Linked DNA regions of Homo sapiens. The protein of the gene in region 1 purifies or fractionates together with the protein of each later gene. This does not show direct contact. Each region holds a gene or a part of one and is shown in the gene's direction. Other genes may lie near its edges.

Evidence for each region.
Region 2: the proteins of MAEL (region 1) and ILKAP purify together in Homo sapiens (affinity purification with western blotting, with the first as the bait; one study listed by BioGRID). This does not show direct contact.

Annotation. Positions count from the first base shown.
Region 1 is NC_000001.11:166,999,173-167,002,999, forward strand, and holds part of MAEL (protein maelstrom homolog), read left to right. Parts: intron 1-3,827. UniProt on the Homo sapiens protein: Plays a central role during spermatogenesis by repressing transposable elements and preventing their mobilization, which is essential for the germline integrity.
Region 2 is NC_000002.12:238,197,110-238,200,936, reverse strand, and holds part of ILKAP (integrin-linked kinase-associated serine/threonine phosphatase 2C), read left to right. Parts: intron 1-3,827. UniProt on the Homo sapiens protein: Protein phosphatase that may play a role in regulation of cell cycle progression via dephosphorylation of its substrates whose appropriate phosphorylation states might be crucial for cell proliferation.

The DNA of each region.
Region 1 (3,827 bases):
AATGATTCAGCTTAGTGAGGAATGCATATCAAAAGCTGCAGTAGGCCAAAAACTAGGCTTCTTGTGCCAAATGACCAAGTTGTGAATGCAAAGGGAATGTTCTTGAAGGAAATTTATGTACTACTCCAGTGAACAACCAATGATAAGAAAGTGAAACAGCCCCATTGCTGATATGAAGAAAGTTTTAGTGGTCAGAATAGATCAACATTCTCCAGTTACCACATTCCCTTAAGCTGAAGCCTAATACAAAACAAAGCCTTAACTCTCTTCAATTCTGTGAAAGCCGAGAGAGGTGAGGAAGCTGCAGAATAAAAGTCTGAAGTTTGCAGAGTTTGGTTCATGAGGTTTAAGGAAAGAAGCCATCTCTATAACATAAAAGTGCAAAGTGAAGGAGCAAGTGCTGACGTAGACGCTGCAGCAAGTCATTCAGAGGATCTAGCAAAGATAACTGATCAAGGTGGCTACAGCAAATGGCAGATTTTCAACGAAAATGAAACCACCTTCTGTTGGAAGAAGACACCATCTGGGAGTTTCATAGCTAGAGAGGATAAGTCAGTGCCTGGCTTCACAGGACAGACTGATTCTCTTGTTAGTGACTAATGCAGCTGGTGACTTTAAGTTGAAGCCAGGGCTCATTTACCCATTCTGAAAATCTTAGAGCTCTTAGGAAATTATGCTAAATTGACTCTGCTTGTGCTAGTAAAAATGGAACAACAAAGCCTAGAAGACAGCACATCTGCTTATTGCATGGTTTACTGAATATTTTAAGAACACTGTTGAAATCTGCTGCTCAGAAAAAAAAAAAGATTCCTTTCAAAATTTTACTGCTCATTGACATTAGACCTAGTCATCCAAGAGCTCTGGTGGAGATGTAAAGAGATTAATGTTTTCATGCCTGCTACCACAATATTCATTCTGTAGCCCATGGATCAAGGAGTAATTTCAACTTTCAAGTCTTATTATTTAAGAAATATGTTTTATAAGGCTATAGCTGTCATAAATGGTGATTCTTCTTATGAATCTAAGCAAAGTAAATGGAAAACCTGAAAAGGATTCACCATTCTAGATGCCATTAAGAACATACATAATTCATTGGAGGAGGTCAGAATATCAACATTAAAGGTTGTTTGCAAGGATTAGATTCCAGCTCTCATGAATGACTTTGAGCAGTTCAAGACTTCAGTGGAAGAAGTAATAGAAGAGAACTAGAATTAGAAATGGAACCTGAAAATGTGCTGCAGTCTCACAATAAAACTTGAATGGGTAAGGAGTTGCTTCTTATGGGTGAGAAAATAAACTAGTTGCTTGAGATGGAACCTACTCCTAGTGAAGATGCTGTGAACACTGGTGAAATGACAAAGGACTAAGAATATTTCATAAACTTGGTAAAGTAGCAGCAGGGTTTGAAAGGATTGACTTAAATTTCAAAAGAAGTTCTGTGAGTAAAATGTTATCAAACAGTATCACATGCTACAGAGAAATTCTTCATGAGAGGAAGAGTCAGTCAGTGTGTCAAACTTCATTGTTTGATTTTAAGAAATTGCCACAGCAACTGCAGGCTTCAGCAACCATGACCCTGATAGTCAGCAGCCAGTAACATCAAGACAGGATCTTCCACCAGCATGGGAATGTAAACTAGTACAACCACTATGGGAAAAAATATGTGGAAATTCCTTAATGAACTAAAAGTAGAACTACCATTTGAAAATTCTAACAATCCCACTACTGGATATCTACCCAGAGGAAAAGAAGTCATACGAAAAGGATAACTTGCACACACATGTTTATAACAGCACAATTTGCAATTGCAAAAATGTGGAACCAGCCCAAATGCCCATCAATCAACAAGTGAATAAGGAAACTGTAGTATATATATGTGTGTATATATATGATGGAATACTACTCAGCCATAAAAAGGAATGAGTTGATGGCATTCGCAGCAACCTGGATGGGATTGGAGACTGTTATTCCAAGTGAAGCAACTCAGGAATGGAAAACCAAACACATGTTCTCACTCATAAATGGGAGCTGAGCTATAAGGATGCAAAGGCATAAGAATGACACAAGGGACTTTGGGGACTTGGGGGCAGAAGGGTGGGAAGGAGGTGAGGGATAAAAGACTACAAATTGGGTTCGGTGTATACTACTCGGGTGATGGGTCCACCAAAATCTCACAAGTCACCACTAAAGAACTTACTCGTGTGACCAAATACCACCTGTTCCCCAAAAACCTACGGAAATAAAAACATTTTTTAAAAAAGATCTTTCGCCAGCAAAAAGATTGTTAAGTCACTGAAGACTCAGGTGATCATTCGTATTTTTAGCAATAAAATATTTTTATATTAAGGTATGTTCATTTTTAAAACAATGCTACTGCACACTTAATATAGTCATAACTTTAGAGTACATAACATTTATATGCACTGGGAAACCAAAATATTTGTGTGACACTTTATTTCAATACTTGCTTTAGTGTGGCAGTCTGGAACTGAACCCACAGCATCTCCAAGATATGTTTATATTCCCTATCTGGCTAGGGAGATAGCAGTTGCACATTTTAATGAATGCTTTTTCTGCATGTCATATGATTTTTATCTTTTGTTCATGTGGCCATTAATTTACTTTTTGAGACAGAGTCTCACTCCATCACCCAGGCTAGAGTGCAGTGGCATGATCTCAGCTTGCTATAGCCTCTGCCTACCAGGCTCAAGTGATTCTCGTGCCTCAGCCTCCTGAGTAGCTGGAATTATAGGTGCACGTCACACGCCCAGCTAATTTTTGTATTTTTATTAGAGACAAGGTTTTGCCATGTTGGCCAGGCCCATCTCAAACTCCTGATCTCAAGTGGTCTGCCCACCTTAGCCTCCCAAAGTGCTGGGATTACAGGCGTGAGCCACTGTGCCGGCCTCATGTGGTACTTTACTAGTGTTAAACGAACCTTGTCTTCCAGGAACAAACCCAGTGTGGTCACTATATATTTTACATATAATATACCGAGTTTGGTTTGTTACTATTTTGTTTTAGGACTTTTCCATTTATGTTAAAGACAGATTATCTAATTTTATTATCAAGTTTATTTTGCCATTATAAAATGGGTTTGGGAATAGATTTTAAGATTTTGAATTTGATTCTTTTTTATGGCTCTACAGAAATTACTAATATTGCCTTTAATTTCCCTAAACATAATAAGCCTAGTTATTTTAAAAGTGTTATGTTGGATAATCCTCTTATCGGGATCTTCTTTTTGGAGTTGATTTTATAGTCTGTTGGTTATGGTGATGTTCAGTCAAGCTAACAGAATCTCTTCATATGTCTAGTTATTTTCGAGTGCTAAACAGTGTATATGAAATCTTGTTATTTCTCTCCAAAGAAGATTTATGATTGTGTCTGTCAGAAAGCTGGAGTCACTAGCATCTCAGATTACCCTAATGCATTTTCATGGATTGAGGTGGTTTTAAATTGGGTTTCAGACATCACAAAAGTTAATTTGTAGTTGGCCTTTACTAGAAAAGGGGGAAGGATGGACAGGTAATCACCAAAGGATTATTAGTAAAATTTACAGTTGACTTCACAGCATAAACAATGGAAGCCAGAAGACAATGGAATATTTTTTTAATTATAAATTTTTATGTAAGTAATATTGCAATAAAATATTTAGTTCTTACCAGCTCTGAGTTTATTGGAAACTCTGTTCTGTTTCTCAGCCTCTAAATCTCCTCTTCCAGAATTGGTAACGCCCTGGGAAGAAACAAACCCAACTGCCAGATTCAGCTCTCTAAGATTTCTTCCTTTCCAAGATTTTGGGCCCATGATTCATTCACCGCATT
Region 2 (3,827 bases), on another chromosome or scaffold:
AAGGGGTGACACTTGCCACTGTTACTGTACAAATTAGTACAGTATGTATGGTGCTGCACATAGTGTGGGGTAGAATGTATAGTGTTTTATAGATGTTAGCCAGGGTTATTATTTTTGAGACAGCCTCATTGTGTCGCCCAGGCTGGAGTGCAGTGACATAAACACAGCTCACTGCAGTCTCGACCTCCGTGGGCACAGGTGATTCTTCCACCTCAGCCTCCTTGGTAGCTGGGACTACAGGTGCGCACCACCACAGCCAGCTAATTTTTGTATGTTTTGTAGAGACAAGGCTTTGCCATGTTGCCCAGGCTGCTCTCGAACTCCTGGGGCTCAAGTGTTCTGCCCACCTTGGCCCTCCCAGAGTGCTGGGATTACAGTGGTAAGCCACTGTGCCTGGCTGAGCCATTAACAGTTGTTTAAAAGTGGAAAAACGCAGTCTTAAATGAATTATGGGAAAGCACTGAGTGTCCAAAGGGAGAATACTACACTGCTTATATCACATCAAATGTATTAATATTTTGTTTAGATCTTTTTATTTTTGTTTTAAACGTTGCATCTAATGTTCCCACCCCTAAACCTCTTAAATGTTTATAATCTAGAAAAATACATAGAATGCACTAAATATTTCAGGTATTTTGCTAAATTAGTAGTTTTCATCCAAGCCCTTAAAAGTTTTAATTGCTGAATGAATCAAGTTTTTTAAAGGAGAGATGTATATATTTTACCTAAAAAAAAGTGTTTGTTCATATCAGGCAGAAATGGAACTTTCCTATGTCATACCCATAAAAGTGCCGACCTGATGTCTTTAAGATTGGCAGCTTATATTGACAATCCATGTATGTCAGTTGAAGGTGTCATGGTTTAAAATTGCTTCGCCAGTAACTTGATTTCACTTTTATAGGGTGGTTCTTTTACTTATTTGGTTGCTACACTAGTACTTTAAAAATTGATGGTCAGTTGTTGAGGAGGAAATAAAATATTTGATGGCCACACCATCTTAAAAATACTTTAAAAAAATTGGAGGCTGGGCTCGATGGCGCATACTTGTAATCCCAGCGCTTTGGGGGAACAAGGCAGGAGGATGGCTTGAGGCCAGGAATTTGAGAAGAGCCTGGCACAACTTCGTGAGACCCCTGTCTCTACGATTAAAAAAAAAAAAGAAGAATATTTGAACATAAAGGTTAAGGTATTAGAGGAAAACAGATTGTAAAACTACAGGGTTGAACAAGAAAAAAGTCATAAAAAAGTGAATTTGACTATGTAAAAATTTAAAATTTCTGCAGGACAAATGATACTATAAAGGCAAAAGACAAACCGAGAAAATAATTGCAATATACATTACTAAGGGTATAAGAAAGGCTCACAGAATTGATGGGAAAAAATAAAACCCACTAGAAAAATGGTCAAAGGATGTATCCTCCCAGTTCAGAGGTAAGGAATACAAATGGCCCATCAACAGAAAGTTGCTGAGGAACTATTTACCTTTTCACCCATCAGATTAGCAACAGTTGGTAACATTGGTGAATGTGTAGCGAAGTAGACTTTCTCATAAAGTGTTTTGGGAGTGAAAATTACAACTTTTTGGGGAACAGATTTTGGCTTCTATCAGATTTAAACTAATATCCTTTGACGAGCAGTCTAGCAGATTAAGCAGGAATACATGTATCAGATTGTTGATTGTGGCGTCACTTATCATATGAAGAACTGGGAAAAGCTTGAACCCATCAGTAAGGATCTGGTCGAATGAGTGGAGATGCTTCCCATGTGTGGCTGTTGGAGAGGATGAATTAGACTTGGGTGTGTTGGCCTGGAGCATGCCTTGATGGGTTATGTGAACACTATATGTGGAGTATTGTGTAGAGTATGACTCTGTCTTCTACAAATTAAAATGCATGAGTCCATGTGCATGAGCATTAAGGAAAGTGGAAAGGATACACTAAACTCATACTGTGGTTGGGGGGTGTGGCGGAACCTGTCCCCCCTTTTTTCTGATAATACCTCTGTGGTGTTTGGAAAACACCTGGATTTATTTTATAGTTGAAAAAATTGAGGTATAAAAAACAATTTAGCCAAAATATTTTAACATCCTTTTTTAACTTTATTGGATACAGCAACCTTTAACCTGAATATGATCAACCCAAGGGTATTTTTCTCAGCATAGTATATAACTTCCAGTAGACTTAGCTCCAGAATGTAGATAACTGAGGAAAAAAAAAAGTTCTAGATGAGATTAACTATGATTAATGGACATTTTTAGTCTTGTATTCTTATTAGGGTTCTAATATTTTTAAGATTAGGGGAGGGGCCTCTTCCAGATTTTTAGGTCAGGGTCACACTTTGTCCAATGATTGCAGCCCCCAATGCTTTGAATTTCAGTTTATTCAAAATAGAATGTAAGGGCCTGGAGCAGTGGGTCACATCTGTAATCCCAGCACTTTGGGATGCTGAGGCAGGAAGATTGCTTGAGTACAGTAGTTCGTGACCAACCTGGGCAACATAGTGAGACCCCGTCTCTACAAAAAGTTAAAAAATTAGCTGGGCATGGTGGTGTATGCCTGTAGTTTCAGCTACTCGGGAATCTGACGAGGGAGGATTGCTTGAGCCCAGAAGGTTGGGGCTGCAGTGAGCTGTGATCACACCACTGCACTCCAACCTGGCTCACAGAGCGAGACTCTTGTCTCAATTTAAAAAAAAAAAAATCTAAGGTTTTGACTAATCAGTAGTTTCCTTATGTATCTATGACCTATAGATTTTTTTTTAAAGAATCCACATACAGACTTCTAAGTTAGATTCTTTTGATGATGCAAAAATTATTTCCAGAGATTTTATAAAATCTCAGGATTATCATCATAGGATTGTTGTAAGGGTAAAATGAGTTGATGTTTATGAAGTTTCTGGAAGGGTGCCCATGTATGGAGGCAGCATAGTACCTCACTAAAAGCACGGACTGCATGGCTTTGAATCCCCACTCCACTCCTTACTGGCTCTGTGATCTTGAACAGGTAATTGACCTCAGTGCCTCAGTTTTTTCATCGGTAAATAATAATAGTACCTATCTCATAAGAATTAAATGAGAAGATGTGTGGAGCTCTTAGAATAGTGCCTGACAGGCAGGCAGTATTATCATTTTTAGAAGCCATTCCCAGTTGTGGCCAGCAAAATGTAGGATGGTCTCATTGTGTTTAATTGAAATACCTCTCATAGTATTCCAGAGTGAGAAAGAAGGTGATAGGCAGTTCTCTGGGGATGGGGCTCAGTTTGGGGCACCATCTGACTGAATTGTAGCCAGAGGAGAGGCGGCCAGGCTAGTATTAATACTAAGCTGTAAGTTGCATTGTGAGGAATGCTTACAAGAACTGAAAATATATTTATTACCTGGGTAAAAGAAGACTTCCTCCCTTGTACAGTGGCAGTGGAAAGACCTGATTTAGATGGGCAAGTTAATTCAAAAGTTAAAATATGACCTGGTACAAGCGGAAGGGTTGTTTGCTCTTCATGTTGGGCTGTTACCTGTAAATGTCCCCTCCCTTGTCCTAAGACATCTGGCTCTGTGACACCACTGAATGCAGCGTGATTGTCTGGAACATCTCATGTGGTTTTTGAGTCTGTCCGGAGAACGGGCGTTGTGATTGTTAGACCCAATGTTTGGGCAAAAGTGACCTACTTCGGGATATTAGGAATTCTTGTAAGTGGATTAATACATTGAGTAATGGTTATCCTAAATACTTTTTTTGGGTGCTGGGGACAGAGTCTGGTTTTGTCCCCCAGGCTGGAGTGCAGTGGCGCTATCTCAGCTCACCGCAACCTCCGCCTCCCAGGTTCAAGCA